Homo sapiens: one gene and its partners. The protein of the gene in region 1 purifies or fractionates together with the protein of each later gene. This does not show direct contact. Each region holds a gene or a part of one and is shown in the gene's direction. Other genes may lie near its edges. The genes, in order: SARNP, TIMM44, ZC3H11A, TAGLN, CHORDC1, ACIN1 and MAGOH.

The links.
Region 2: the proteins of SARNP (region 1) and TIMM44 fractionate together in Homo sapiens (co-fractionation; one large-scale study listed by BioGRID). This does not show direct contact.
Region 3: the proteins of SARNP (region 1) and ZC3H11A purify together in Homo sapiens (affinity purification with mass spectrometry; 4 studies listed by BioGRID and IntAct, with this or other methods). This does not show direct contact.
Region 4: the proteins of SARNP (region 1) and TAGLN purify together in Homo sapiens (co-immunoprecipitation; 2 studies listed by BioGRID and IntAct, with this or other methods). This does not show direct contact.
Region 5: the proteins of SARNP (region 1) and CHORDC1 purify together in Homo sapiens (affinity purification with mass spectrometry, with the first as the bait; one large-scale study listed by BioGRID). This does not show direct contact.
Region 6: the proteins of SARNP (region 1) and ACIN1 purify together in Homo sapiens (affinity purification with mass spectrometry; 2 studies listed by BioGRID and IntAct, with this or other methods). This does not show direct contact.
Region 7: the proteins of SARNP (region 1) and MAGOH purify together in Homo sapiens (affinity purification with mass spectrometry; 2 studies listed by BioGRID and IntAct, with this or other methods). This does not show direct contact.

The regions. Positions count from the first base shown.
Region 1 is NC_000012.12:55,807,519-55,811,353, reverse strand, and holds part of SARNP (SAP domain-containing ribonucleoprotein), read left to right. Parts: intron 1-3,835. UniProt on the Homo sapiens protein: Binds both single-stranded and double-stranded DNA with higher affinity for the single-stranded form. Specifically binds to scaffold/matrix attachment region DNA. Also binds single-stranded RNA. Enhances RNA unwinding activity of DDX39A.
Region 2 is NC_000019.10:7,940,724-7,945,294, reverse strand, and holds the start of TIMM44 (mitochondrial import inner membrane translocase subunit TIM44), read left to right. Parts: upstream 1-1,628; 5' UTR 1,629-1,643; coding exon 1,644-1,688; intron 1,689-4,097; coding exon 4,098-4,193; intron 4,194-4,571. UniProt on the Homo sapiens protein: Essential component of the PAM complex, a complex required for the translocation of transit peptide-containing proteins from the inner membrane into the mitochondrial matrix in an ATP-dependent manner.
Region 3 is NC_000001.11:203,829,803-203,833,637, forward strand, and holds part of ZC3H11A (zinc finger CCCH domain-containing protein 11A), read left to right. Parts: coding exon 1-94; intron 95-320; coding exon 321-401; intron 402-1,858; coding exon 1,859-1,969; intron 1,970-3,835. UniProt on the Homo sapiens protein: Through its association with TREX complex components, may participate in the export and post-transcriptional coordination of selected mRNA transcripts, including those required to maintain the metabolic processes in embryonic cells.
Region 4 is NC_000011.10:117,197,831-117,202,325, forward strand, and holds the start of TAGLN (transgelin), read left to right. Parts: upstream 1-1,539; 5' UTR 1,540-1,602; exon of another isoform or gene 1,603-1,999; intron 2,000-2,020; exon of another isoform or gene 2,021-2,082; intron 2,083-3,930; exon of another isoform or gene 3,931-4,084; intron 4,085-4,495. UniProt on the Homo sapiens protein: Actin cross-linking/gelling protein. Involved in calcium interactions and contractile properties of the cell that may contribute to replicative senescence.
Region 5 is NC_000011.10:90,202,990-90,206,384, reverse strand, and holds part of CHORDC1 (cysteine and histidine-rich domain-containing protein 1), read left to right. Parts: intron 1-112; coding exon 113-183; exon of another isoform or gene 184-184; intron 185-819; coding exon 820-925; intron 926-2,957; coding exon 2,958-3,077; intron 3,078-3,395. UniProt on the Homo sapiens protein: Regulates centrosome duplication, probably by inhibiting the kinase activity of ROCK2. Proposed to act as co-chaperone for HSP90. May play a role in the regulation of NOD1 via a HSP90 chaperone complex. In vitro, has intrinsic chaperone activity.
Region 6 is NC_000014.9:23,088,548-23,092,382, reverse strand, and holds part of ACIN1 (apoptotic chromatin condensation inducer in the nucleus), read left to right. Parts: intron 1-1,749; coding exon 1,750-1,861; intron 1,862-2,281; coding exon 2,282-2,401; intron 2,402-3,835.
Region 7 is NC_000001.11:53,228,412-53,232,246, reverse strand, and holds part of MAGOH (protein mago nashi homolog), read left to right. Parts: intron 1-3,292; coding exon 3,293-3,375; intron 3,376-3,835. UniProt on the Homo sapiens protein: Required for pre-mRNA splicing as component of the spliceosome. Plays a redundant role with MAGOHB as core component of the exon junction complex (EJC) and in the nonsense-mediated decay (NMD) pathway.

The DNA.
Region 1 (3,835 bases):
AACTCCTGGCTTTGAGCAATCCTCCCACCTCAGCCTCCCAAAGTGCTGGGATTACAGGCATGAGCCACCACACCTGGCCAAGCTGTGTGATATTTAAGCAAGTTATTGAATTTCTTTAAGCCTAATTGTAATACCAACCACTTAGGTTCCTTGTAAGGATTTTGAGTTCCCATCATATATGTTATAGGTGGTCTAAAACATCTCTGCCTTCAAAGAATTTACAAACTATATGTTGACATAACATGAAAAAGATGATTTCTTTTTTTTTTTTTGGGATGGAGTCTCGCTCTGTCACCCAGGCTGGAGTGCAGTGGCGTGGTCTTGGCTTGGCTCACTGCAACCTCTGCCTCCCGGGCTCAAGCCCTTCTCCTGCCTCAGCCTCCCGAGTAGCTGGGATTACAGGTGCCTGCCACCACGTCTGGCTAATTTTTGTATTTTTAGTAGAGACAGAGTTTCACCATGTTGGCCAGGCTGGTCTTGAACTCCTGACCTCAGGTGATCCGCCCGCCTCGGACTCCCAAAGTGTTGGGATTACAGGCGTGAGCCACCGCGCCTGGCCAACGTGAAAAAGATTTCTGATAAAATATTTTAATCAAAATTTGGCCGGGTGTGGTAGCTCATGCCTGTAATCCCAGCCCTTTGAGAGGCCGAGGCGGGAAGATCACCTGAGGTCAGGAGTTCAAGACCAGCCTGACCAACATGGTGAAATCCCATCTCTTCTAAAAAATACAAAATTAGCTGGGCATGGTGGTGCACGCCTGTAATTCCAGCTACTGGAGAGGCTGAAGCAGGAGAATCGCTTGAACTGGAGAGACGGAGGTTGCAGTGAGCCGAGATTGTGCCACTGTACTCCAGCCTGAGTGACAAGAGTGAAACTGAGTCTCAAAAAAAAAAAAAAAAAATTCAAGGTCAGTTAACTAGAAGAAATCACAGGGCAAGCTGGGCACAGTGGCTCACGCCTATAATCCTAACCAACACTTTGGGAGGCTGAGGCAGGAGGATCACTTGAGCCCAGGAGTTTAAGAACAGCCTGGGCAACATAGTGAGACCTCATCTCTACTGGAAATAAAAAAATTAGCTGGCTGTGGTGGCACACACCTGTGGTCCCAGCTATACAGGAGGCTGAGGCAGGAGGATCATTTGAACCCAGGAGGTCGAGGCTGCAGTGAGCTGCGATTGCACTGCTGCATTCCAGTCTGGGCAACAGAGCAAAACCCTGAGTCAAAATAAAAATAAATAGAAATCACAGGGCAATGCATGATTAATGTCAAATGTATGATGAGGGTAAGTTGATATGTCTTTTCTCTGTGGGTTGGATAGGTAGAATGGAGAATGCTTTATTGATACTGAAAAATAAGATTTAAAAAACTTTTTGAATAGGTAATCATGCACAAGTTCACAAAAGAGTATATGGTAAAAAGTTTCTTTCCTACACTTTTCCCAAACTAGCTTCCTCTTCTCAGATTCAACCAGTGTTAACTTACCTGTTTCTTCTCCAGGCATCTTGTTTATACACATTATACAGAGATGTGTGTGTATTATTTTTTACATTAATGTTAGTATCCTTATAGAATGTTCTATAACTCTTTTCTTTTTTTTTTTTGTTTTTTGAGACAGGGTCTCCCTTCTGTCGCCCAGGCTGGAGTGCAGTGGTGTGATCATGGCTTACTGCAGCCTCAACCTCCTGGACTCAAGTGATGCCCCTGCCTTAGCCTCCCGAGTAGCTAGGACTACAAGTGTGCCTGGCTAGTTTTTTGTTTTTTGAGAGACAGGGTCTCACTGTGTTGCCCAGGCTGGTCTTGAACTCCTAGGCTCAAGTGATCCTCCTGCGTCGACCTCCCAAAGTACTAGGATGACAGATGTGAATCACTGTGCCTACCTAGCTGGTTTTTTTTGTTTATTTTCTTCTTGGGACAGGGTCTTACTGTGTTGCCCAGGCTGGAGTGCAGTGGCATGATCATGGCTCATTGCAGCCTCAGCCTCCCAGACCCAAGTGATCTTTCCATCTCAGCCACCTGAGTAGCTGGGACTGTAGGCACATGCGACTATGCTCGGCTAATTTTTTTTTTTCAATAGCCTTACTGAGATACAATTCACGTACCATACAATTCATTCAGTATACTTGTTAAAATATTTTTTGTTTGTTTTGAGATAGGGTCTCCCTTTGTTACCCAGGCTGGAGTGCAGTGGCATGATCTCGGCTCACTGCAGCCTCGACTTCCTGGACTCAGGCCATCCTCCAGCTTTAGCCCCTCAAGTAGCTGGGACTACAGGCACATGCCACCATGCCTGGCTGTTTTTGTATTTTTAGTAGAGATGGGATTTCAACATATTGTCCAGGCTGGTCTCGAACTCCTGGACTCAAGTGATCTGCCCACCTCTAGCCTCCCAAAGTGTTGGAGCCAAAACATTTCAAATCAAATCAAATCAATTTAGAAAAATGGGATAAGATTTTATGTTAGTTCCTATTTTAAGTTTTAAAAGGTTTTAGTTCTGCTAATGTAATTGTGCTGAAATACGTGCAAAAAGAAATTACATCATTTTCAGCTGTTTTATGTTTTTATTCATCTGTTTCTCATTCATTCATTCTTTTGAGGCCAGGTATTGCTGTGTTGCCCAGGCTGGAGTACAGTGGTGTGATCACAGTTCATAGCAGCCTTGACCTCCCAGGTTCAAGCGTTCCTCCCACCTCAGCTTCCCTAGTAGCTGGGACCACAGGCGTGTGCTACCTTGTGTGACTAATTAAAAAAAAAATTTGGCTGGGCGTGGTGGCTCATGTCTGTAATCCCAGCACTTTGGGAGGCCGAGGCGGGTGGATCACCTGAGGTCGAGAGTTCGAGACTAGCCTGACCAACATGGGAAAACACTAAATTAGCCAGGCATGGTGGCGCGTGTGTGTAATCCCAGCTACTCGGGAGGCTGAGGCAGAATTGCTTGAACTCGGGAGGTGGAGGTTGCGGTGAGCCAAGATCACGCCATTGCACTCCAGCCTGGGCAGCAAGAGTGAAACTCCATCTCAAAAAAAAAAAAATTGTAGGAACAGGGTCTCACTCTGTTGCCCAGGCTGTTCTTGAACTCCGGGGCTCAAAGCTGTCCTCCTGCCTCAGCCTTCCAACTTGCAGGGACTACAGGCATGAGCCACCATGCCCAGCCTCTATTTTCCTTTTAAAATAATGTCTATTTTCCTTTTAAAATAACGTCCTAGTATATGAGAAGAACTCACTATATAACAAAAGAAGTAATACAACTATGTAAAAGCTGTGTGTAGGCTGGGCACAGTGGCTCACGCCTCACTACAAATGATATATGTAAATGTTAAGTGATCTGTAAGTGCTGGGATTACATACGACTTTTATTTTCCTCTAAACTTTTCAGAATTTTCTAACTATTCTACAGTGAACATAATACTTTTATAACAAACAAAAAATTTAAAGTGTAATTAAGATCAAAAGACTTGTTCTCCAGGAAGTGGGAAGAAAATAATGTATCAGTGTGAGAAAGATCAAGATTCTTAAAAAAAATTTTTTTTTTTTTTTTTTTGAGACAAAGTCTCGCTCTGTCACCCCGGTGGAAGTACAGTGGCACGATCTCGGCTCACTGCAAGCTCCGCCTCCCGGGTTCACGCCGTTCTCCTGCCTCAGCCTCCTGAGGAGCTGGGACTACAGGCGCCCGCCACCGCGCCCGGCTAATTTTTTTTTTTTTTTTTTGTATTTTTAGTAGAGACGGGGTTTCACCGTGCTAGCCAGGATGGTCTCTATCTCCTGACCTCATGATCCGCCTGCCTCGGCCTCTCAAAGTGCTGGGATTACAGGAGTGAGCCACCACGCCCGACCAA
Region 2 (4,571 bases), on another chromosome or scaffold:
TTCTTTCTTTCCTTTCTCTCTCTCTCTTTCTTTCTTCTTCTTTTTTTTTGACACAAGGTCTCTCTCTGTTGCCCAGGTAGTGTAGTGTAGTGTAGTGTAGTGTAGTGGCACGATCACGGCTCACTACAGCCTTAACTTCCCGGGCCTCAACGATCCTCCCATCTCAGCCTCCTGAGTAGCTGGGACTACAAGCACATGCTACCACGCCAAGCTAATGTTTTGTATTTGTTGTAAAGAAGAGGTCTTCACTATGTTGCCCAGGCTGGTCTCAAACTCTTGGGCTGGAGAGATCCTCCCGCCTCAGTGTCCCAAAGTGCTGGGATTATAGGCATGAGCCACCGCGCCCGGCCAAACTCCGTACTTTCAACCACAACTAAGAATCCATATTTCTAGCCCAGACCTTATTCTTAGCAACACACCTGTGTACACCAACCGCTTAACTAGTTTGCTCCTCTTGGCATCAAGACATCTCGAACAAAGCCAGAGTGGAAGCCCTCATCTCTTACCCCCACCTTGAGGGGGAGCTCCTGAGATGGAGAACACAAGTCTATCCATCGCAGAAGCCAGGAATGCATGCTCTCCGGGGCCAAGCTGCCTCCCTTTGAAATAATGAAGTCCCATAAACCCATATCACAGGTTAGTAATGCAAAAAGACCGGGTGCGGTAGCTCACGCCTGTAATCCCAGTGACTCAGAGGCTGAGGCAGGAGGATCGCTTGAGCTTGGGAATTGGAGGCTGCAGTGAGCTAGATTACGACACTGCACTCTAGCCTGGGTGACAGAGCAAGCCTCTGGCTCTATAAAAAAAAAAAAGGATCCAATAAGACAAACAGCAACAGCAACATACATTAGCTCTCCCAGGGGACCAACCCTCCTCCTCATACCCGGATTGCATGGCCATGTTAAAATACCGCCACCTGGTGGCGGCATTCTTCGAATGGAAAATAGCATCTGGGGTGCTGAAATGACAAAGGCCTGAGCGTCTTCAGATCAGAGTGTCAGTTCACACTGAATCGAAGTAGGACTGGACCACAGTCAGCCCGCTCTCAGCTTCCTCTTCTTATTCGGGGTCAAAACCAACAGGCGTCTTCCCAAAGCGCCGCACAAGAGTGGGCTCCTTCGCTTTCTCGGAGCGACTCACTTGCTGGTCTCTCAGCCATTGTCAATCAATCAGTCATTGCAGGGGCAGCCATAGACAATTACTCTGGAGCTGGTCCGCCGGTCAATCAGAATCCAATCGAATCCGTCCTTGTGGTCGGTGGATCCACGTGCCTGTACCACCTGCCACCAGCGCCCGGCGCGTTCTGTAGCCGAATCACCGCAAGTGACGGAATACACGCCCCTGGGCTCCGCCCCCTCGTAGTCGCGCCCAATCACAGATCTGACCCTCCCAGGAGTGCCCTCCCCCGGGCCACATCCAGTCACGGGCCCCGTCCTTCCAAAACACTGCCCTATCAGAGGTCAAGCTCTCTAGGCATTCCCTACCCTTTTAATGCCCCGCCCTATGACGGACCCAATCGGAGGGCTCTCCCTACCCGAAACCCCGCTCCTGGAGCGGCTTTTCTCAGGCTTGCGCGGCTCTAGGCCGAAGCGGCGGATGACGCAACCGGGCCGCGCCGCGAGAAGGTCACACGATTCTCCAACATGGCGGCGGCGGCCCTGCGGAGTGGCTGGTGCCGCTGTCCACGGGTGAGCGGCGGTGCGGCGCTGGCAGGGCGAGCTTAGGGGTCTTCTGGGCCTTCGGCCACCAAGGCTTTCTTCTCAGACCCTTGGCCTTCGCGACCCTTGCTTGGGCTCCTTAGAAAGCTTGGGGTTAGATCTTTGGGTAGCAGAGGCCAGGACAGGGGGCACAGAGCGTGGCCTGAGGGCGGGGACCGAGCTTACCGGGCAGGGGGCGGCGATGCGCGGGACCTGGGAGGGAGCTGATCACCCTTCGCCCTCTGATCAGACTCCACGTATACAGGAGAGAGAATGGTAGCCGGGGCGGCGGCGTCCCGTGGAAAAAAGTAGAGGGGAAGGCAAAAAAACGTGAAATTCACAGCTCGCGGTTAAATGCCAAGTTCTCTACCGAGAGCATTTCTTGTCTCGTTTCTTCTAACGTTCATTGTGGATGTGCGAGAGGTGGTTCGCGCCCTAGCAGGCTCTTGGGTCCACAGGGCAGTGGCAGTCAAGACGTGTAAGGCGCACTCAGAAAGTAGTACTTCATATTGCTCGTGCTCTTCGTTTTTTCTTTTTTCTCTTTTTTTTTTTTTTTTGAGACAGAGTTTCGCTCTTGTCGCCCAGTCTGGAGTGCAATGGCGCGATCTCGGCTCACTGCAACTTCTGCCTCCTTCTGCCTCCGGGTTCAAGCGATTCTCCTGCCTCAGCCTCAGGTGGATCACCTGAGGTCAGGAGTTCGAGATCCACTGGCCCACATGGTGAAATCCCATCTCTACTAAAACCCCATCTGTACTAAAAATACAAAAAAATTAGCCGGGCATGGTGGCGCGCTCCTGTAATCCCAACTACTTGGGAGGCTGAGGCAGGAGAATCACTTGAACCCGGCAGGCGGAGATTGCAGTGAGCCGAGATCCTGCCACTTTACTCCAGCCTGGGCAACAGAGGGAGACTCCGTCTCAAAAAAAAAAAAAAAAGTTATCCTCAAGTAAATACAGGAGATAGTAGGCACCTGTGTAAGTTTGGGATGTTGCATAGGGTTCTCAGAGGTAGGAGGCAGAGAACAGAGAGAAAAACGGCCCAGGAAATGTGGAAATGGTGGAGAAGTTGTACCTGGTCTTTTGACATCAACACGCCAGGTTCTGTGCTGGGTGACAGGGTGCCGAGCTGAACAGGACCTGCACAGAGCTTTTTTTTTTTCCCCCAATTTTTTATGGAGGCAGGGTCTAGCTATGTTGCCCAGGCTGGTCTCAAACTCCTGAGCTCAAACGATCCTTCCGCCTCAGCCTCCCAAAGTATCGGGATTACAGGCATGAGCCACCAGCTCAGTGCCTGCACAGAACTTAAGGCAAGATCTCGGCTCACTGCACCCTCCACCTCCCGGGTTTAAGCAATACTACAGGTGTGTGGGACTACAGGTGTGTGCCACCACGCCCGGCTAATTTTTGTATTTTTGGTAGAGACGGGATTTCACCATGTTGGCCAGGCTGATCTCGAACTCCTGACCGGGTGATCCTCCCACCTCAGCCTCCCAACGTGTTGGGATTACTGGCGTGAGCCACCGCGCCCAGCCAGCAAGTGCCTTTTACATGAGATCAGCCCAGTCTTTGCCCAGAGCGACTCCCCTAAATTACTCTGTTTATAGCTCAACCCTTGAGGAGGACATTGTAGGTTTATTCCAGAGTTGTCCCTGGGGCAACACATTATCGATGTTTGTGTCTGAAAAATCCAGTTCTCTCATCTTTGGAGGCTGGCAGAAATGGGGTGGGCTCGCAAGAGAAGACTGCTTGCCACTAGCATAGAAGCTTAGAGTGCCTACTTTCAGACTAAGGGATTAAATTGTACATTTAGCCTTCTTCCCCCCATGGGTTGGCATTTCCTGGGACCTGTCCGTTTTCCCCCAGTTTCAGGGGCACGAGGATAGATGTAGGCCCTGGAGGTACAGACACAGCATTTTCTCTTTCCACCAGCTTCTGCTTGCTTCTCAGACTTTGGGAAGATTACAGAGTGCCCGGCATGCATCAGGCATAAGATACAAATTGGCCAGTGAGGCCAGGTGCAGTGGCTCATGCCTGTAATCCCAGCACTTTGGAAAACCGGGGGAGGGGTGGATCACCTGAGGTCAGGAGTTCGAGACCAGCCTGGCCAACATGGCAAAACCGCTTCTCTCCTAAAAATACAAATATTAGCCGGATGTGATGGCGCATACCTGTAATTCCAGCTACTCGGGAGACTGAGGCAGGAGAATCGCTTGAACCCAGGAGGCATAGGTTGCAGGGAGCTGAGATCGCAGCACTGCACTCTAGCCTGAGACTCCGTCTCAAAAAAAAAAAAAAAATGGCCAGTGAGTTGCAGGTGACCCTGCTGTTTTGTGTGTGGTCTGCTTACTTCTCAGTCAACCTCTTGTTAGAATGGATCTTTCTCTTCTCTCCCCCCAATTAGAGATGCCTCGGCAGTGGAATCCAATTTCTTTCCAGCCACAACCTACCCCATGGGTCGACCTATCAGATGCGCCGGCCGGGCGGAGAGCTGCCACTGGTGAGTGACTCAGGATGCTCGGGCCAGCAGACACAGGGGAGGCCCGAAAATTCAGATCCCATTGGCAGGAGGGAGGGGTGGGGCTGTAGAGGTGGCTCGTACCATCTCGGTGGTGGGCCTTCTGTGTCCGGGGCTTTCAGAATGACAGATCCCAGTGTGCCTGGCCTTCTCGGTCCCAGAAACACTTGACCTGCCTCTTGCTTGATGTCGTAAGGGGATAAGGTGCTGTCAGAATAGCCCTTTATGTTGGCTCTAATGCTTGGAAGAGACCCCTGTATTGAACTGAATTCTACTTCCCTGTGACCTCTGCCCGTGGGTACCTCACCAAGCATAGCTGTTTCCTTTTCTAGAAGATAGCCCTTTGATCATTGGTACAGA
Region 3 (3,835 bases), on another chromosome or scaffold:
GAAACCAAAACACCTACCCTGCAACCAACTCCTGAAGTTCACAATGGATTACGAGTGACTTCTGTCCGGAAACCTGCAGTCAATATAAAGCAAGGTAAGAAGAGGCTAGATTGGTGCCTCTTATAGCACTGTTGAAACTACCTTTGAAATTTAGTTCACAATCATTGACCTCCCTCTTCTTTTTCCCATGCTACACGCATACTTACCTATACTTAGTTTCTGTTGATCATTTATTCAAAAATAAATGCCTGCTATGTACAGATAAAATACAAAGATGAAAAGGCTCCCGTTCCTCATAAAATTTCTATTTGAATTTTCAGGTGAATGTTTGAATTTTGGAATAAAAACTCTTGAGGAAATTAAGTCAAAGAAAATGAAGGAAAAATCTAAGAAGCAAGGTGGTAAGTCATCACGTTTTGGCATGGATAGTTGTATGTTGCTAGGGAAGAATACTAAGGACGCTTCTAGAAGCAACAGCCAAAATGAGCAAATAGATTTTCATTTCCATGGCCTGTTTGAAGTAAAACACAGACTTATTTAAATTGTGGTTGCTTTTAATTCACTGCAGCTGTGTTTCAGTCCCTAACTTTTCAGAGCTGGGTACAATAAAGAATCTGAAAGAACTTGTATATCTTGAAAAATATAGCTCTGAAGAACATCATATAAGAACTATATTAATTCTGTAAGTTCTTATAGTGGTTAAAAAGAAATTATATTAAGAGAGGAAAGGCTGGGCGTGGTGGCTCACGCCTGTAATCCCAGCACTTTGGGAGGCCGAGGAGGGCGAATCATGAGGTTGGGAGATCCAGACCATCCTGGCCAACATGGTGAAACCCCGTCTCTACTAAAACAAAAAATTAGCCAGGCGGGGTGGCATGCACCTGTAGTCCCAGCTACTCGGGAGGCTGAGGCATGAGAATTGCTTGAACCCAGGAGGCAGAGGTTGCAGTGAGCTGAGATCGCACCATTGTATTCCAGCCTGGCGACAGATCAAGACTCTGTCTCAAAAAAGAAAAAAAAGGAAAAACGTCATTTTCTAGTAGAAGAGTTCTTCCTCAAGAGCTGCTAGGATTTTCTTCTGGAGCTTACGTCAGCCTGATTGCTCTGTATTTCCAACCCCCAATTTTTTTTTTTTTTTTTTTTTTTTTTTTTTTTTTTTTTGAGACAGAGTTTTGCTTTTGTTGCCAGGCTGGAGTGCAATGGCGCAATCTTTGCTCACCACAACCTCCACCTCCCAGTTCAAGCTATTCTGCTGCCTCAGCCTCCTGAGTAGCTGGGATTACAGGCATGCGCCACCACGCCTGGGTAATTTTGTATTTTTGGTAAAGACAGGGTTTCTCCATGTTGGTTGGGCTGGTCTCGAACTCCCAACCTCAGGTAATCCACTGCGCCCAGCCCCCAGCCTTAAAATTTATAGTGTGAAGTGTAGTATATATAGAGAGAAATGGTTCTAAAAACCTTCTTTTAAGGCTTGCTTTATAGCAACCTTGGAGTTGTGTTTTCAGATGATTAAATAGAATAGGTTGGATTGATACACCTGATGGCTAGTGTACCTCTGAGGTTAATTTTAGAATAATACTAGCTTTATTGGTAAATATTAGCCTTATTGGTAAATAAAAGTAGTTTGGGTGCCTAAGTCACTCAAAATAATTTTATATTTTGTTTTCACATCATGCCCAAGGCTCCCCTCACCACTACTCCATTTGACTGTAGGCAAACAGATACAGAAAGGCTGATTGGCTTATAGTCATAATATCAGTCTGTATTGGACTTAACTGGTTACAAAAACAAATTTTTTGACTTGGGATAGCATTATTTTCCATAAATTATTTGCTGTTCTTTGACTTGCCTTATTCAGAGGGTTCTTCAGGAGTTTCCAGTCTTTTACTCCACCCTGAGCCCGTTCCAGGTCCTGAAAAAGAAAATGTCAGGACTGTGGTGAGGACAGTAACTCTCTCCACCAAACAAGGTAAGGTATAGATAGGTCTTAGAGTTGTCAAGCCTCTACTTTTATATAATTGGGAATGCAAAATCCTTGGGTATCTTTTACCTTTGATGAATTTTCAGGAATTTGTTAGTATGCTGATGAGATAATCTAAAGATGAAAAGTTGGTACATTCAACTCTAATATTTAAAAGGTTGAAATTCTTTGTCAAGCAGCCCTCACATATATTTTTCCATTTACTGTTTATATCCACTCAATACATTTATTGGCTTCCCATGTGACTAAAGAATAATAGGTATATATAATAAAGTTTTTTATTTATTTCTTTGAGACAGAGTTGCACTCCTGTTGCCTAGGCTGGAGTGCAATGGCATGATCTCAGCTCACCGCAGCCTCCGTCTTCTGGGTTCAAGCAATTTTCGTGTCTCGGCCTCCCAAGTAGTTGGGATTATAGGCATGTGCCACCAAGCCCGGCTGATTTTTTTGTATTTTTAGTAGAGACGGGGTTTCTCCATGTTGGTCTGGCTGGTCTCAAACTCCCGACCTCAGGTGATCCGCCCGCCTTGGCCTCCCGAAGTGCTGGGATTACAGGTGTGAGCCACCGTTCTTGGCCATTAATTTTTTTTTTTTTTAGATGGAGTCTTGCTCTGTCGCCCAGGCTAAAGTGCAATGGTGCGATCTCCACTCACTGCAACCTCCGCCTCCCAGGTTCAAGTGATTCTCCTGCTTCAGCCTCCCCAGTAGCTGGGATTATAGGCACCCGCCACCACGCCTGGCTAATTTTTGTATTTTTGGTAGAAACGGGGTTTCACCATGTTGGCCACACTGGTCTTGAACTGCTGGCCTCAAATCATCTGCCTGCCTCAGCCTCCCAAATTGCTGGGATTATAGGTGTTAGCCACCACACCCGGCCTGTAACGAAGTATTTTCACTTAATAATTTTAAGCCTAATAAGGAATTATAGATATAGATATATTTAAATGTTTGTGCAATTCAAACAACAAAGAATTAGAAGAAAGAGAGCTCACTTCTTCCTGAGGTGATCAGAGATAGTTATATTGGACAGTTAACATCGGAGTAGAGTACAGTTTCATTCAACATATCAAAGTGCATAAGCAAAAGGATAGTTTCAGCTTTATAACCAATTGGTTAAGAATACAATCTGTCTTATACTCGACTGCTATTAATAATTAGTACTATTCTAGGCTGTGCGCAGTGGCTTACATGTATAATCCCAGCACTTTGGGAGGCTGAGGCGGGCGGATCGCTTGAGGCCAGGAGTTCAAGACCAGCCTGGCCAACATGGTGAAACCCTGTCTCTACTAAAAATACAAAAATTAGGCTGGGTGTGGTGGCTCACGCCTGTAATCCCGGCACTTTGGGAGGCCGAGGCGGGCAGATCACAAGGTCAGAAATTCGAGACCAGCCCGACCAACGCGGTGAAACCTTGTCTCTACTAAAAATACAAAATTTAGCTGGGCATGGTGGTGCACGCCTGTAATCCCAGCTACTCAGGCTGAGGCAGGAGAATCGCTTGAACCCGGGAGGTGGAGGTTGCAGTGAGCCGAGATCGGGCCACTGCACTCTAGCCTGGGCGACAGAGTGAGACTCTGTCTCAAAAAAAAAAAAAAAAAAAACACCAGGTGTGGTAGTGTGCGCAGTAGTCCCAGCTACTTGGGAGGCTGAGACAGGAGAATTGCTTGAACCCAGGAGGTGGAAGTTGCAATGAGCCAAGATGGCACCACTGCACTCCAGCCTGAGTGACAGAGCAAGAGTCTATTATTATTATCAAAATAATAATAATAATTAGTACTATGCTATTGCTTCTGTTTAGGCTGTATGTTTGGCTGTTTATTATTAATAGGTTTGGGTTTTTTTTTTTTTTTTTTG
Region 4 (4,495 bases), on another chromosome or scaffold:
CCGCTCAGCGTGCAGGCCGAGGCAGGAGGGTGATGAAAGCTGGGCAGGCTCCAAGAGGAGGGAGTTTTGATATGTCCCTGAAAGATTCATTTAGACTTCAGTCGGCTAAGGAGGACATGATTTGGGGGCCAAGGAATCTGTTGAATTCAGAACACAACCAGAGGTCTGCAGGGTCAGGGATGGAGGAGTGGGCTTTCCCCTCGCCAGGGCCCACTCCTCTTCCTGCTTTTCCTGCAGGCGCCACTGGGAGGTGCTATGGCTGTGCCTCCCCTGGGCTCTGGAGCATGTCCAGTTGCAGTGGGCAGAACTGCGGAGGCGGGCCCCTCCTCTGCCAGGCCTGGCAGCCCCCTCCTAGGGCCTTGTTTGGCTAGGGGTGGTGCCGGGTGTGGCAGTGTGTGTGTAGTGGAGAGTGTTAGGTCTTCCCTACCAGATGCCCTTGCAGGGGAGTGCCACAGCAGTCAGTCCAGGGATCCCACTGTTAGTCTCACCTTTTTTAACCTCTTATCTCTCCCCAAGATCCCTGAAGCCAGGTACGAGCAAGATGAGAGTGGGTTATCTCTGGAGTGACAGAGGCTGGTCTGTTTTCCAGGCTGGTAGGGACTGTTCCTAAAGGGAGGAAGGGATGATACCAGCCTCCTGAGCCTCCTTCTCCTGCGTTAGTGTCTCAGGCCCTGCCAGGCCTTATAGACCCTCTTATTGACACTGCCCACTGGATGGGGACCGGAGTTGGACTCAGCTTCTGCCGAACCCTCAAATCCCAGCCCCAACTAAAGCATATAACTCAAGACCTACCTGCACTGAAAGCTCTTCTCAACCTGAGCAGGGTGGTCCAATTGAAAGGGTGGGTCTGACCACCTCTCCTGCACCCATGCGGGTTGGCAGAGGTGTGCAGGATCTGCCACTTACCATTCACCATGTGGCCTTGAGGAAGACGCACTCGGGGCCTCAGTTTCCTCATCTATAAAATGGGGATGTAATTACACCCTCACACTGTAGCTGTGAGTATTCAATGAGAGCACTGCAAAGGGCCTGGTGTGGAGTAGGTCCTCAGGAAAGGTTGGATCCCATGTCCCATCAGAGCTAAAAGCCCCAGGAGGAGAGGGTGGCTGGTTTGTCCCCACAAACCCCTGGGATTCCCGGCTCCCCAGCCCCTTGCCCCTCTCTCCAGCCAGACTCTATTGAACTCCCCCTCTTCTCAAACTCGGGGCCAGAGAACAGTGAAGTAGGAGCAGCCGTAAGTCCGGGCAGGGTCCTGTCCATAAAAGGCTTTTCCCGGGCCGGCTCCCCGCCGGCAGCGTGCCCCGCCCCGGCCCGCTCCATCTCCAAAGCATGCAGAGAATGTCTCGGCAGCCCCGGTAGACTGCTCCAACTTGGTGTCTTTCCCCAAATATGGAGCCTGTGTGGAGTCACTGGGGGAGCCGGGGGTGGGGAGCGGAGCCGGCTTCCTCTAGCAGGGAGGGGGCCGAGGAGCGAGCCAGTGGGGGAGGCTGACATCACCACGGCGGCAGCCCTTTAAACCCCTCACCCAGCCAGCGCCCCATCCTGTCTGTCCGAACCCAGACACAAGTCTTCACTCCTTCCTGCGAGCCCTGAGGAAGCCTTGTGAGTGCATTGGCTGGGGCTTGGAGGGAAGTTGGGCTGGAGCTGGACAGGAGCAGTGGGTGCATTTCAGGCAGGCTCTCCTGAGGTCCCAGGCGCCAGCTCCAGCTCCCTGGCTAGGGAAACCCACCCTCTCAGTCAGCATGGGGGCCCAAGCTCCAGGCAGGGTGGGCTGGATCACTAGCGTCCTGGATCTCTCTCAGACTGGGCAGCCCCGGGCTCATTGAAATGCCCCGGATGACTTGGCTAGTGCAGAGGAATTGATGGAAACCACCGGGGTGAGAGGGAGGCTCCCCATCTCAGCCAGCCACATCCACAAGGTGTGTGTAAGGGTGCAGGCGCCGGCCGGTTAGGCCAAGGCTCTACTGTCTGTTGCCCCTCCAGGAGAACTTCCAAGGAGGTGAGGAGTGTGTGAACGCACCTGTGTTGGAGCACGGTGTCCCACTCTGGCGGGTCCCCAGGGCCTGAGCAGCAGCGATAGCCCTGTGACAATGTGAAGGGCCACAGAACTCTTGTATTCCAGTCAGGGGCAAAGAGTGGAGACGGAAGGCCTGTCCTTCTGACAAGCAGCCCCTTCCACTGTCTGACAGTGGGAGGTCACCCCCACTGTAGCAGAGGGGTGGGGGGCGGGTACTGCCAAGGAGGAGCTTTGGAGTGATAGGCGGGGCAGGCCTGGGACCCTTGGTCTTTCCCAAAGGGTGGTTCCCTTTCGAAGTTGCTATTCCAAAGGTAGCAGTGAGGATGGCACACATTTATGTAGCCAGGCCACTCCTGTTTGTCCGTGGAGTGGAGAGGAGCCACCCTCCTGCCCTCTCAGAGGTCCAGGTGTGCTCACTCCTATTTGGGAAGAGAGAAGGGGCACAGCAGCCCTGCAGGGGCCCCTGGCTCTGCTCGTGTTTCTGGGCTTCTGCTGGTAGGGGGTGCCACCTTCCCGTTTGACCCTGGACTTTCTTTCTCCACTGCCCACTTTCACCCACTGGGCAGCTCAGGGGAGGGGTCCTGGCAGGAGCCACAGGGCAGGAGGGTCCATGCCTGTCCATGCTGTCCTGGGAGTGTCTTGAGATGCCCCTGGGGGGGCCGCCCTGTAATCATCCTCCTCTCCCCCTCCCCACTGGCTCGAAGGCAGGACTCGGGAGGCTTCATCAGAGGACTCTAAAGGATTTCTGGGGATTCTCCACTTTTCGACCCTGACCCAGGAGGAGGAAGGGGAAGGATGGTGGTGCTGGGTGGGAGTGGGGATGGTGTGTGCTTCATCCCCCTCTGACCGAAATCCTAATCTTGTCTCTAGATCTGGGGGCTGCAGCGTTGTGTACCTGTCACCCTTAGCCTTGCTGCTTTGACCTGTATTGTCTGTTCTGACCCTCCTGAGACTGGAAGCTGGGGGTAGGGGACACACTCTCCTTCCATCCTGTTCCTCAGGAGCCCAGCAGGGGTGCAGAAGGGGAAGGCAGACATGAGGGCAGGTGGAGTGGGGGTAGAAGCAGGGCCAGAGACAGAAGGTGGATGCCTGTCTGGGATGGTGGTGCAAAGGCTGAGACAGAGGCTGGGGTGGATGGAAGCCAGGATGCAGGGCTACCAAAATCACCTGGTCCCAGCTGACTTGGGGGTTTGGACCACAGTTCTTTGTGCAGGAGTCCTTGGGTGGTTGGGGAGCGGGGGTGGGACACACAGGGTGAAGGGAGGGATTGGCTGTTTGTAGCTGAACAGCAGAACAGAGCACTCTGCCTTTGGGGTCTCTGGCATCACTGGCAGGGAGAGGGGTGGCTGGGCCAGGAGCCCACCTCATCCCCAGTGCTCAGAGAACTGGGTCCTCAGAAGTGGTCCTGCCCCCACTTTACACATAAGGAAACAGACGCAAGGAGGAGAGGGATGCCCAATGACGGGCACTTCGATGAGTCCGTGTGAACTCTGTTCCGTGTGAGCTGCTGCGCGCTCAGGGAATGATTGTGAGAAGCGGGTGGAGGCTGGAGTGGGCAGCAAAGAACTGACATTTTGAGGTCAGTTTTTCACTCCTTGGTCAAGGGCAGGCTCTCTCCCTGGTCATTACCAGGAGCCTGGCTCCGGGCAGCAAAGAACTGACATTTCGAGGAGCTCTGCTAAGGGCCAGGCAGTATGTGAGGGAGTTCACAGACACCGTCCCATTTTCACAGCCCTCTGAGGTTGGTAACATAACCCCCACTTCACAGATGAGGAACTCCAGCCCAGAAAGCCTGTCAGCCCTGAGAAAGGAAGGGCAGGGCATCGGGCTGGGCAGCTGGCCTGGGACCAGTGGGGTGTGATAGTGTTGGCTCTGCTTCCCGCGGGTGGGGTGCCAGTGGGGAGGGGTCTCACCAGAGAGGGAGCCGGGGGAGTGCGCTCCTGCGTCCATCCTCAGACCAGCGTGTCCCTCCCAACCTCTGACCCCTCTGAGGCCAGGGGATGGGTTCGGCTTCCTTTGGTACCTCTTTTGGAAGTCTCTTCAGACAAACACTGGAGAGAAGGCACAGCACCCTAGGGTGACATCAGTGGACAGGTCAGTTTCCTGTTCCTGTTCCCAGCCACCCCTGTCTGTCTGCCCAGGGACCTACCTGCCTGGCCCACTCCTGCTGCCACCCCTCTCCATGAGTGGGACTCCTGAGCAGTGCCAGGCCCAGGCCCTCAGGGTGGCAGTTGCTGGATGGGGCCAGGCTTCCCATTCCCTGGCAGGCAGACTCTTGGCTCTGGAAGATCCCTGGGGGACTCTGACTTCTTGGTTACTCAGGCTACTCCGTAAGGGTAGCCTTACGAGAGCGTAAGGGCATGAGGGGAAGTCGATGGGTAGACCAGGTGTCTCTGATTTCTCTGAGGAAATGCAGCTTCTTTGCCAAGAACTCTTGGGCTTTGGTGGCTTCGTCGCCCTTGCCTGGGGTGGGCGAGT
Region 5 (3,395 bases), on another chromosome or scaffold:
TTGTCATTTAAGTATTTTGCAAAGTTCGTAGAGGTCACCAATACTGCAAATATGTATGAGATGTAACTGTAAGATACGCAGCTAATTTTTTTTCTCTTTGTTTCCTTTTTAGACATACCAGGGTCTAGAGAGTCTAGAAGAAGTCTGTGTATATCATTCTGGAGTACCTATTTTCCATGAGGGGTAACTTATGCATGACTTATTAAAATAGTTTATGGTAGAATTTAGAAAGTTAAACCTTTCTGTCTTTAAACATTGTTTGCCATGCAGTGTTATTAGGCATTTTACTTACATTGCCATTAACATCTTCACAATAGCCTACACAAACACAGGGGTTTGTATGTTGTGTGTTTATACATGAGAAAACAGAAACAAGGTTACAGTTCTTAAGTGGTCATTGTGATATAAACTGCCTGTTTTTCTTCATATTCTGTATTTAAAAGTGATGCTATTTGGGCTAAATGTTTTGTTTGAAGGACTGTCCTACACATTGCAGGGCATTTAGAATTTTGGGCCCTGGGGCACTAAGACAACATTATCCCAAGACGACCCATACTTTTCCGCATCCTGCAGTTGAGAGCCTCTCTTCTGTATTATGCTCTAGTTTATAGAAATGCAGCACTGTGTAAAAATCTTCCACTCTGTTTCCACATTCTTCCTGATATACTGTACATTCATTTTTAGTAACTTAGACACTTGTAAAATGCTAGAGTTTGTACACTTACTGGCTTATTAAAAATCAGATTTATCCCTAAAATACTTGTGGATTTAATTGGTTGTGAGATTTTATTTCTGAAGTTTTTCTGTGATAATTTAAAGGATGAAATACTGGAGCTGTTGTAGAAGAAAAACTTCTGATTTTAATACATTCTTAGCCCAAGAGGGCTGTACAAAAGGGAAACACATGTGGACTAAAAAAGATGCTGTAAGTAACTCTTCCAAAAATAGCACACTGGGTTTATATTCATCTGAGTCATTTTTTAAAGATTTGAAATTATTCTGTCTTTAGATTTTAAAAAAAAGTTTTCTTTTTTGCACCATAGAGCTTTGATGTGACTACGAAATAAAATGAATCTGAGTCAAGCTGCCAGTGTACTGCCTTTTGAGCAAAATAGCCATTGTCTGTTTTGATGCAAGCATGTGAGGTTTTGTGAAATACTTAAGCCTGACAAAATTGAAGAATTTTTGTCTTCTTTAATTAATAAAATTAGCTCCATGGCCTCTTCCTACTTTTTGTTTTTTAAAAATTACTTTTCTATGAATTTGATGACGTTAAACGTTTAGACCTCTGTTATTCTTTTGGCCACTTAAAACTTCAATCATTTACAGATGCACAAACACTCCATCTAGTGGCCAGAGAGGAGGATTGCAGTCTTGTTTCAGTGGAATTGTTTTGAATGCCTCTGCTTGCTAATGGGATATTTATCAAAAGGGGGGAAAAAAGCATCATTTCCTACTTCCCTGGACAGCTTTTTAAAAAGACTTGGGGGCTATGCAAATAATTTCCCAAAACCCCATTAAATTGTGAGAGGATGAGCAACTTATTGCTCAATAAGTTTTTGTCTGTTAGCTATTGTTAATGTATTTTATAATGTATTAAATTTTCAAATTAATTTAGAGATTTCAATATTTTAGTCTTCTGTAGTTGCTGCCCCTCCCCCACTTTTTTTTTTCTTGAGACAGAGTCTCGCTCTGTCGCCCAGACGTGCAGTGCAGGCTCACTGCAACCTCCGCCTCCCGGGTTCAAGCAGTTATCCTGCCTCAGCCTCCCTAGTAGCTGGGACTACAGGTGCGTACCACCACGCCCAGCTAATTTTTTTGTATATTTAATAGAGACAGGTTTTCACCATCTTGGCTAGGCTGGTCTTGGACTCCTGACCTCGTGATCCACCCGCCTCGACCTCCAAAAGTGCTGGGATTATAGGCGTGAGCCACCGCGCCTGGCCCTAGTTGCTTTTTAATAACACATGGTTGGATATTATAAAAATACCCTGAAGTTATAAAAATTCATCTACCACAAAACTATCAGAAATGTTTTTAAATAAAAAGAGTGTATTTTTTATAGTCCAAAAGTTTGAAAATTTTAGTTTGAAAAAATAAAATGTTGTTTTCCATTATGTTAAGTTTGGGAGTATAATCCTAGATAAAATGATGTAATTTCTCTTGTTTTTTAATGTATGCAGTTATCAAGTATTAAGTATCTAAGCTAGTAGCTAAGGGGAAAAATGTGAGTGATATATATAATTTAAATTTAGTTAATGTAATTTTATCAAAACGAAAATAGTACCTTTTACAACAGTAGTGTCTCAGTTTCCTGAATTATGTAACTAAATTGTTCTCATTTATATAACAAATCATCATTTGCCTCTATAAAAAAAAATACTGGTAGGGCAGTATAGTATACTACTGGTATGTAAGGATTATTTTCATAATCAGAAAATCCAAAAATCATTTGTTCTTTATTAAAATGGGAAGAAAGTAATAACTGGTCAGATTTTTTTCTTAGATTCTGATTTGTAGAAAATAAATAAGGTTTCTAGTGCATGAGGTTAAGGTGTTGTCTGATTTATCCCAGTAAACAAATGTCTTTCATTTCAGTCTTCAAAGAATGTTTTGATGACAGTACTTAGTAGGTTACAGAATGTTAAATTGGATTAAATTTAGTAGGAGTTCTTAAATTGTCTTTTTAGCTGTGTATCAATATTATGGCCCTGAAAGAAAAAAACAAAGGGAAGGAGTAAGTGTGTTCTGAAATCATAAAATTTATGAAGAATCTTTGTACCATGATATATTTTCTTGTTTAAGCCTCTTGGGAAATATAGAAGTTTTTTGCCCTTAAACATTAAGTGCTTAGTTGTTGTGCATGGTAGTTTTTTCTCAGATGGGTCAAATTCCTCTTTTTAAGAAATTAATTATGTGGCACTTTTTTAACTTACAGAGTTTCTCTTACATTACAGGGGAAAAAAGTTGTTCCATGTAGACATGACTGGCATCAGACTGGAGGTGAAGTTACCATTTCAGTATATGCTAAAAACTCACTTCCAGAACTTAGCCGAGTAGAAGCAAATAGCACATTGGTAAGTACATCTTATAATTTTGGGTAAAAGTTCTTTTCTATACATCATTCTTTATGTTACTGTATTTTAAAGTATTGTTTATATCTCAGCTGATTTGGGGGTAAGATTTTATAATGACTCCCATTAAAAAAAATTAAATTACTTCTATGAAACTATTTTAAATGAAAATTTCTGTATAGTAGACTTACTGCTGAACCATTCTGGAGATACTGTAGTAGATTTATCAAGTAATATAGTACTTAGTTCTCAATATGAAACTTGAAGCCAGTTATTCTTTTTTGTCAGTGGCTTTTCTCATATGAAACAATACAGTATTGG
Region 6 (3,835 bases), on another chromosome or scaffold:
CACCGGGTTTGTGCAGCAAACATGCCTATTCTGTAATACACATGCAACCCACCCTTCAACAATGTCCATTGAGTGCCAAGAGACTCATTTCTACTTTAGGTGAAAATAAACCTTTACTATGTTTAGGAAACATGACTAATAACATAGAAAGTATTCAGGTTTTTTTGCTTTTTCAGTTCTAAATAGGACTTGCTAAGCAAGAAGGTTCTAGGGAGGAGAACTTGTGAAGAGAAAGCTGGAGGTCAGAAGGGCAACTTGGGAATCTGTATTACAAAAAAAAAAAAATAGGAAAAGGCATAAGCTCCTGTTACCAAGGATTTCCTTTCACCCAGACAAAATGGAGTTATAACTTTGTCTAAATGCTGAATGGATATCCCTTTTCTTAGTCTCTTGATTTCATACTTTTAAATACTATACTTGAATTTTGGAGTTGTTTGATAAAATGTTTCCTGGATATGAGGCCGGGCATTGTGGCTCACGCCTGTAATGCTAGCACTTTGGGAGGCCAAGGCGGGTAGATCACCTGAGGTCAGGAGTTTGAGACCAGCCTGGCCAACATGGCAAAACCCCGTCTATACTAAAAATGCAAAAATGAGCTGGTTGTGGTGGCACATGTCTGTAATCCCAGCTACTCAGGAGACTGAGGCAGGAGAATGTCTTGAACCCAGGAGGCGGAGGTTGCAGCAAGCCAAGATCGCGCCATTGCTCTCCAGCCTGGATGACAGTGATAGTCCGTCTCAAAAAAAAAAAAAAAAATGTTTCCTGGATAGGTAACGGTTGATCTTTTGGAGGAACTGGCTTTTTTTTTTTTTTTTCTTGAGATGGAGTCTTGCTCTTTAACCCAGGCTGGAGTGCAGTGGCACGATCTCAGTTCACTGCACCCACCACCTCCTGAGTAGCCAGGATGACAGACTCACACCACAATATGCCCACCTTTTTGTATTTTTGGTAGAGACGGGTTTTGCCATGTTGCTGAGACTGATCTTGAACTCCTGAGCTCAAGCAGTCTTCCCACTTCAGCCTCCCAAAGTACTGGGATTACAGACGTGAGCCCCCATGTTTCAGTCTTGATACTACCAAAAGGAAATTTTAGATTACCCTTTAGATAATGTTCCACGTAATCTAGGAATTTAGCCTAAAAGATATAATTACAGGAATTTTAATTTAAGGTTATTTGTGGCTGGGCACGGTGGCTCACACTTGTAATCCCAGCACTTTGGGAGGCTGAGGCGGGTGGATCACTTGAGGTCAGGAGTTTGAGACCCGTCTGACCAACATAGTGAAACCCCGTCTCTACTAAAAATACAAAAATCAGCCGAGTGTGGTGGTGCACACCTGTAATCCCAGCTACTCAGGAGGCTGAGGCAGGAGAATCATTTGAAGCCAGGAGGCAGAGGTTGCAGTGAGGGAAGATCACGCCACTGCACTCCAGCCTGGGCAACAGAGTGAAACTCTGTCTCAAAAAATAAAAATAAAGAATAGTAATTTGTATACCAGTATCACTCTTTGGGAACTGAATATTTAAATCAAAAACTTATGTGCAGCTCTTCTTTTTGCCCTTTTTTTGTGTGTGACTCAAGGCTATTCTGTTCTTCAATATAGAACTAACTTAGAAAAAAGCCTTCCAACATTTTAGTTATCTTTCTTGGGCGCAACTATAAGGAGTGGACCTTTGCTCCATGGAATGTTCTTCTTTGCATTCTCCTGGTTTGTTTTCCTAGACCCTCTGTTTTCATTTCCTCTACACAGATTGGTGAGGAAATGAGCCAGAACAGTTTCATAAAACAGTATCTGGAAAAGCAGCAGGAGCTACTTAGGCAGCGTCTGGAACGTGAAGCTCGAGAAGCTGCAGAACTTGAAGGTAAGCCCAGATTGTCACTTTTAACAAGGAGTTCGTCATTCTTATCCCTGTCACCAAGTAGATAGGCCTGTCTAACTAGACAATTTCAGAAATAAGTGAGGCTGAGACTGCTACTTACTTGCTTTCATAGCCCATGAAGCCAAGTGGTTTACTATTTACTTTTGTCAGGGAAGAGGACACTTAATTTGACTGTCTTGTTAGAAGAGGATTCCTGCCAACAGGAAGAGTTATAAGTAAATTAAGCTACCATTTAGATGAAGTAGAGCTGAATCCCAGGGAGTTTTTTCTTTTTATACGGTGCTCTTTTTGGTATGTATCTCTGTATCTGTGACTTTGCCTGACCTCCTTCACTCCTCTACATATTCCTACATGCTGAGTCCTTCACTCCCTCCCTGCCCCGACCCGATCTGTACTTTGCAGAAGCTTCAGCTGAGTCGGAGGACGAGATGATCCATCCTGAGGGAGTGGCTTCCCTGCTGCCTCCTGACTTTCAGAGCAGCCTGGAGAGACCAGAGCTGGAGCTCAGCAGACATTCGCCCAGTACGTATCTCCCTCCCCACTGCGCTGTTTTGTCAATCCTGCGTAGTTGGTGGGGGGAGGTAGTTACACCTCCTTTCATGCTAAGCCTCCATGAAAGTCCCAGGGAAATTCTGTGACATTGATATTTGACATCTGTTTCTCATGGAAAGTATACCCTTTTTGAAGTCTGCTTTCACCTATATATTGTGTTACCTTCTCAGTGTTTTACGAAGCAGTGTGATTTTTCTTCTCATCTGTACCTCTTCAACTCTTCTACCTCTGAATTTGGCAACAGTCAGCTCTTTTTCATCTCTTCACCAGTTGTGTATATTACGTGTTAACACATTCAGTCACCCTCTGGAGTTGGGTATCTGCTGTGGTTTAATCAACAAATTTTTATTGTGTACTTGTTGTATACCAGGCACATGCTAGGCACGAGGAATATAGTAAAGAAAGAAACAAGTCTCAGCCCCAAGAAACTTAGTCTAGTGAGGACATGGACATTAGTTACAGTTGTTTTGGCTACTGTGCAAGGCAACGCAGAGTATTATGTGAGCATATTATAGTAGGGAGCTCTAACCTAGTATATGGGATTGGTTCAGGCAAGATTAATTAATTTCTTCACATTATAGAAAATATTAAGCACCCAGACTGGGTGTGGTCGCTCACGCCTCTAATCCCAGCACTTTGGGAGGCTGAGGCAGGAGGATCACCTGAGGTCAGGAGTTCCAGACCAGCCTGGAAAAACCGTGAAAAAGCCATGGCAAAACCCTGTCTCTACTAAAAATATAAAAATTAGCTGGGTATGGTGGCAGGCACCTGTAATCCCAGTGACTCGGGAGGCTAAGGCAGGAGAATCGCTTGAACCCGGGAGGCAGAGGTTGCAGTGAGCCAAGATTGCACCATTGCACTTCAGCCTGGACAATAGAGCGAGACTGTGTCTCAAAAAATACATAAAATCATAATAGGCACCCAATTTTGCATAATATCTCAAGCAAAAGTCTATAAATATAGCCTTTGTCTTTTGGGAACTACCTGTCTAAGTCAGTATACTTTGAGGAAAATATGTGCAGGTTGAGCATGCCTAATCCAAAGACCCAAAACTTTTTGAGTATTCACATGACACTCAAAGGAAATGCTCATCAGAGCATTTCAGATTTTGGGTTTTCAGATTAGGGATGCTGAATCAGAAAGTATAATGCAAATATTCAAAAATCCAAAATCTAAAACACTTGTGATCCCAAGCATTTTGGAAAAGGGATACTTAATATGTATATAAGACATGTGGATTGTTAGTACATATGTTAAACCAATGTGTAACTTAACAAGTATTTTGAATAATTAGTGTTGAGGGGGATGCGGAATCCACCATAATCAGTGTTTTTAGGATGTATGGAGGTTTCCAGCTCTTCTGATTAATACAGAATTCCTTCATGGACTACACTTGATTTTAGT
Region 7 (3,835 bases), on another chromosome or scaffold:
AAAATGATGGACCAACCCTTGAAGAGTTTTTTTTAAAAATCCACCCTCAGTACTTACTAAAGTTAACTTTAATTTATGTTCAAGGGAGCTCAGTAATATCATATATATGTATTTTGCTTTACCACTTATAAAATTTTTATTTCTATTAACTCGTTCTACCATCACAACAATTCTGTAAAGAGGGAAGGGCATATTCCTTTGTACCAGCAATAAGCCATTGGATACTGTAATTAAAATCAATTCCATTAATAATTGCAAGAAGAGTTATAAAGAACTTGGGAATGCATTTAACAAGATGTACAAAACTTGAAAGGGCTTTATAGAAGGACAAAAATATGTATCGTTTTTGTGGATGGCAAGATTCAGTATCATAAAGATGTCAGTTTTCAACAAAGTAATTTATAAATTCACTCTTAATTCAAATAAAAATCGCAGTAGGATTTTTTTCCCTTTAGAATCAAATAGAATGAGCATTAAATTCATGGAAAATCAGAGGCAAGAGTAGCCAAAATAATACTGGAAATTTCTTACAAAGCTGTGGTCATTTGTAGTATGATATTGCCTCGGGAATTGACAGCTAAACCAATGGAACAGAATAGAGAGCCCAGAAACCAACCTATGAATATATGGAAACTTAGAAAAGTGTGCTACAGAGGTGGACTTTCACATTAATGGGAAAAGAACGAATTATTTAACAAATTGTACCAGGACAGCTGACAATGTATTTATGGAATATTTTTAAAATTAGGCCATAGAAATCAAAAATTTTAAACAGAATATAGACTTGTATTATTTCTGGGTAGAGAAGGAGTTTTTAAAACTCCTTAAGGGGTAAGATTGGTAAATTTGACTTCTTTACAACTTAGGTTTGACAAAAGATGGCAAGATAAAGTTGAAAGATAAGCCATAGACTGGAAGAAGTTATCTGCAAAACATAAAACTGGCAAGAGTTCTCCATCCAGAATATATAAAGAATTACAAATTAATAAAAAGACTGTCCCGTGGCAGAATGTGCAAAGGTTATGAATAGATAACTTACAAGATCAAACAAGTGGCTAATATGAAAAGATTTACGGCTTCATTTGTAAAATGAAAGGACAACAGTGAGATACCATTTCAGACCCATTAGAATAAAAACAGAAAAAAATCTGCCGAATTTAAAAAATGATATGAGAAAAGAGTGAGAATAAAATTAGTATAACCGCGTTAGGGAGTAATTTTGTGGCATCTGGCAGCATTTAAAATACTAGGAATTATATGGAGACATATTCACATGTACAAGGAGATGTATAGAAGAATATTCTTGCTACATTGTTTATAGGAATAAAAATTTAAAACTTAAGTTTATTTCAGTAGGGAAATGGAATACCACAAGCATTTAAAACTAATGAGCTAGATCTGTGTAACTCAACATTGATAAATCTCGAAAACAATGTGGAATGAAAAATGTAAAAAGTATGTATAATAAGACCATTTTGTAAAAATTTTAAAGCACACTACCACGTCTAGGCCAGGTGCAGTGACTCATGCCTGCATTCCCAGCACTTTTGTTCTTAATTGGGAGGCCAAGGTGGGAGGATGACTTGAGGCCAGGAGCTCAAGACCAGCCTGAGCACAGTGAGACCTTTTTTTCTACAAAGAAAAAAAAAAAAACCCTAAAAATTAACTGGGCGTGGTGGCGCATACCTGTAGTCCTAGCTATTCGAGAAGCTAAAGGTGCAGTATAGCATGAGCCCAGGAGCTCAGGGTTACAGTGAGCTATGATCCTACTACTATACTTCAGCTTCAGTGACAGAGTGAGATCCTGTATCTAAAAAGAAATAAGTAAAAACATACTACCAAATCTGAAACAAGAGTGGAACAAATCGGGATACAGGAGGGAGAACAGAATGGGAGATGGACATAAACTTTGTAATATTTTACTTCTTTTTTAAAAAAAATCTGACACAAGTATGGCAATAATTTATAAATCTGAGTATTGGAAACATCTCAGTTTTTTCGATTTTCTGATTGAATTATAACAAAAAGGATATATGAATCAAAAAGAAGAAAAAGTAAATAGGCCTCACAAGAATATGAATTCCACAGGGCAGAGATCTTTGGTTTGCTTGGTTTTACTTATCTGTCCAAAGCACTGAGAACAATAGCCAGCACCCAGTAGGCTACACATAGATACTTTTTGAAGGTTATGGTACTCATGTCACTGTTTGGAAATTGAGATCCAACATCATACATGTAGGGAGTGACAAAGTGGGGATCAAACCTAAGGTCTGGAAGTTGCCTAGATAGATTAGATTCTTTGGTTTTTGTTTTTGTTTGTTGTTGTTGGAGACAGGGTCTCACTCTGTTGCCCAAGCTGGAGTACAGTGATGAGATCATGGCTCACTGCAGCCTTGACCTCCTGGGGTGAAGGAATCCTCCCACCTCAGCCTCTCTAGTAGCTGGGACCACGGATGCACACCACCACACCCAGCTAGTTTTCGTATTTTTTGTACAGATGAGGTTTAGCCAAGTTGCCCAGACAGGTCTTAAACTCCTGGGCTCAAGTGATTCTCCTGCATTGGCCTCCCAAACTGCTGGGATTACAGGTATGAGTCACCACACCCAGTCCAATTGTTTGGTATTTTTAAAACATAGGTGTATTCATGTTACTCCACATTGTTGACAATGAAAACTCATACAAAATACTACATAGGCTGGGCGCAGTGGCTTATACCTATAATCCCAGCACTTGAGAGGCTGAGGCAGGCGGATCACCTGAGGTCAGGAGTTCGAGACCAGCCTGGCCAACATGGCGAAACCCTGTCTCTATTAAAAATACAAAAAAATCCATCCTGGCTAACACGGTGAAACCCCGTCTCTACTAAAAATACAAAAAAAATTAGCCGGGCGTGGTGGCGGGCACCTGTAGTCCCAGCCACTCAGGAAGCTGAGGCAGGAGAATCGCTTGAACCTGGGAGGCGGAGGTTGCAGTGAGCCGAGATCATGCCAGTGCACTCCAGCCTGGGCAACAGAGTGAGACTCTGTCTCAGGAAAAAAAAAAAAAAAACCTACATAGATTTTTCCAAATCTGAGAAATGGTAGGGCCTTAAGGGTACAACTTCTTCTAAATATGAGCTGTATTTATCTCTTGTTTCTAGTGCCCAGCACAGTTTAGTGCTCAGAGTGAACTGCCCTTGTTTTTGTGGCCATCTGTAGTCAAGTTTGTGTGATTTGGCAAATGATTAATCCTTCTGTGTGCTTGATGAATAATCCAATTCTACTTGACTTCGATTTTCTAAAATGTTTCTAGGAGCTTGAAATCGTCATTGGAGATGAACACATTTCTTTTACAACATCAAAAATTGGTTCCCTTATTGATGTCAATCAATCCAAGTAAGTGTGCATGATCCTTATATCCAGTTGTGTCTGTTTTGGAGCAGATTGATAAGAAACCTTAACCAAATTGGGACCATTATGGGAAGAGCTGGGGCAAATGCAAAATGCAGGTGGGCAGCTTTGTCCTTCTTGTTAGGGAGGAACCCCAAATTATTTTTGAGGACTTGCTCCTATTACTTTTGGTGTTTCATTCAGCCATTGCTACTGCGAGCTTCTTGTTGACACACACATATAGATTAATGCATAGGAGCAGCCAGAAGAAAAAATGGAATATGCCAAAAAAGTGCTCATGATAAACTGTAGAGTCACCGAGTCTGAATAGCTTTCTCAGTGTGACTGTTGAGACTGGCACATCTTAAAATCTGACTTCAGTGAAACTTGACATTTTTTAGGATCTAAGTTTTATTTTATTATAAATTTATTATTATTATTATTTTGAGATGGAGTCTCCCACTGT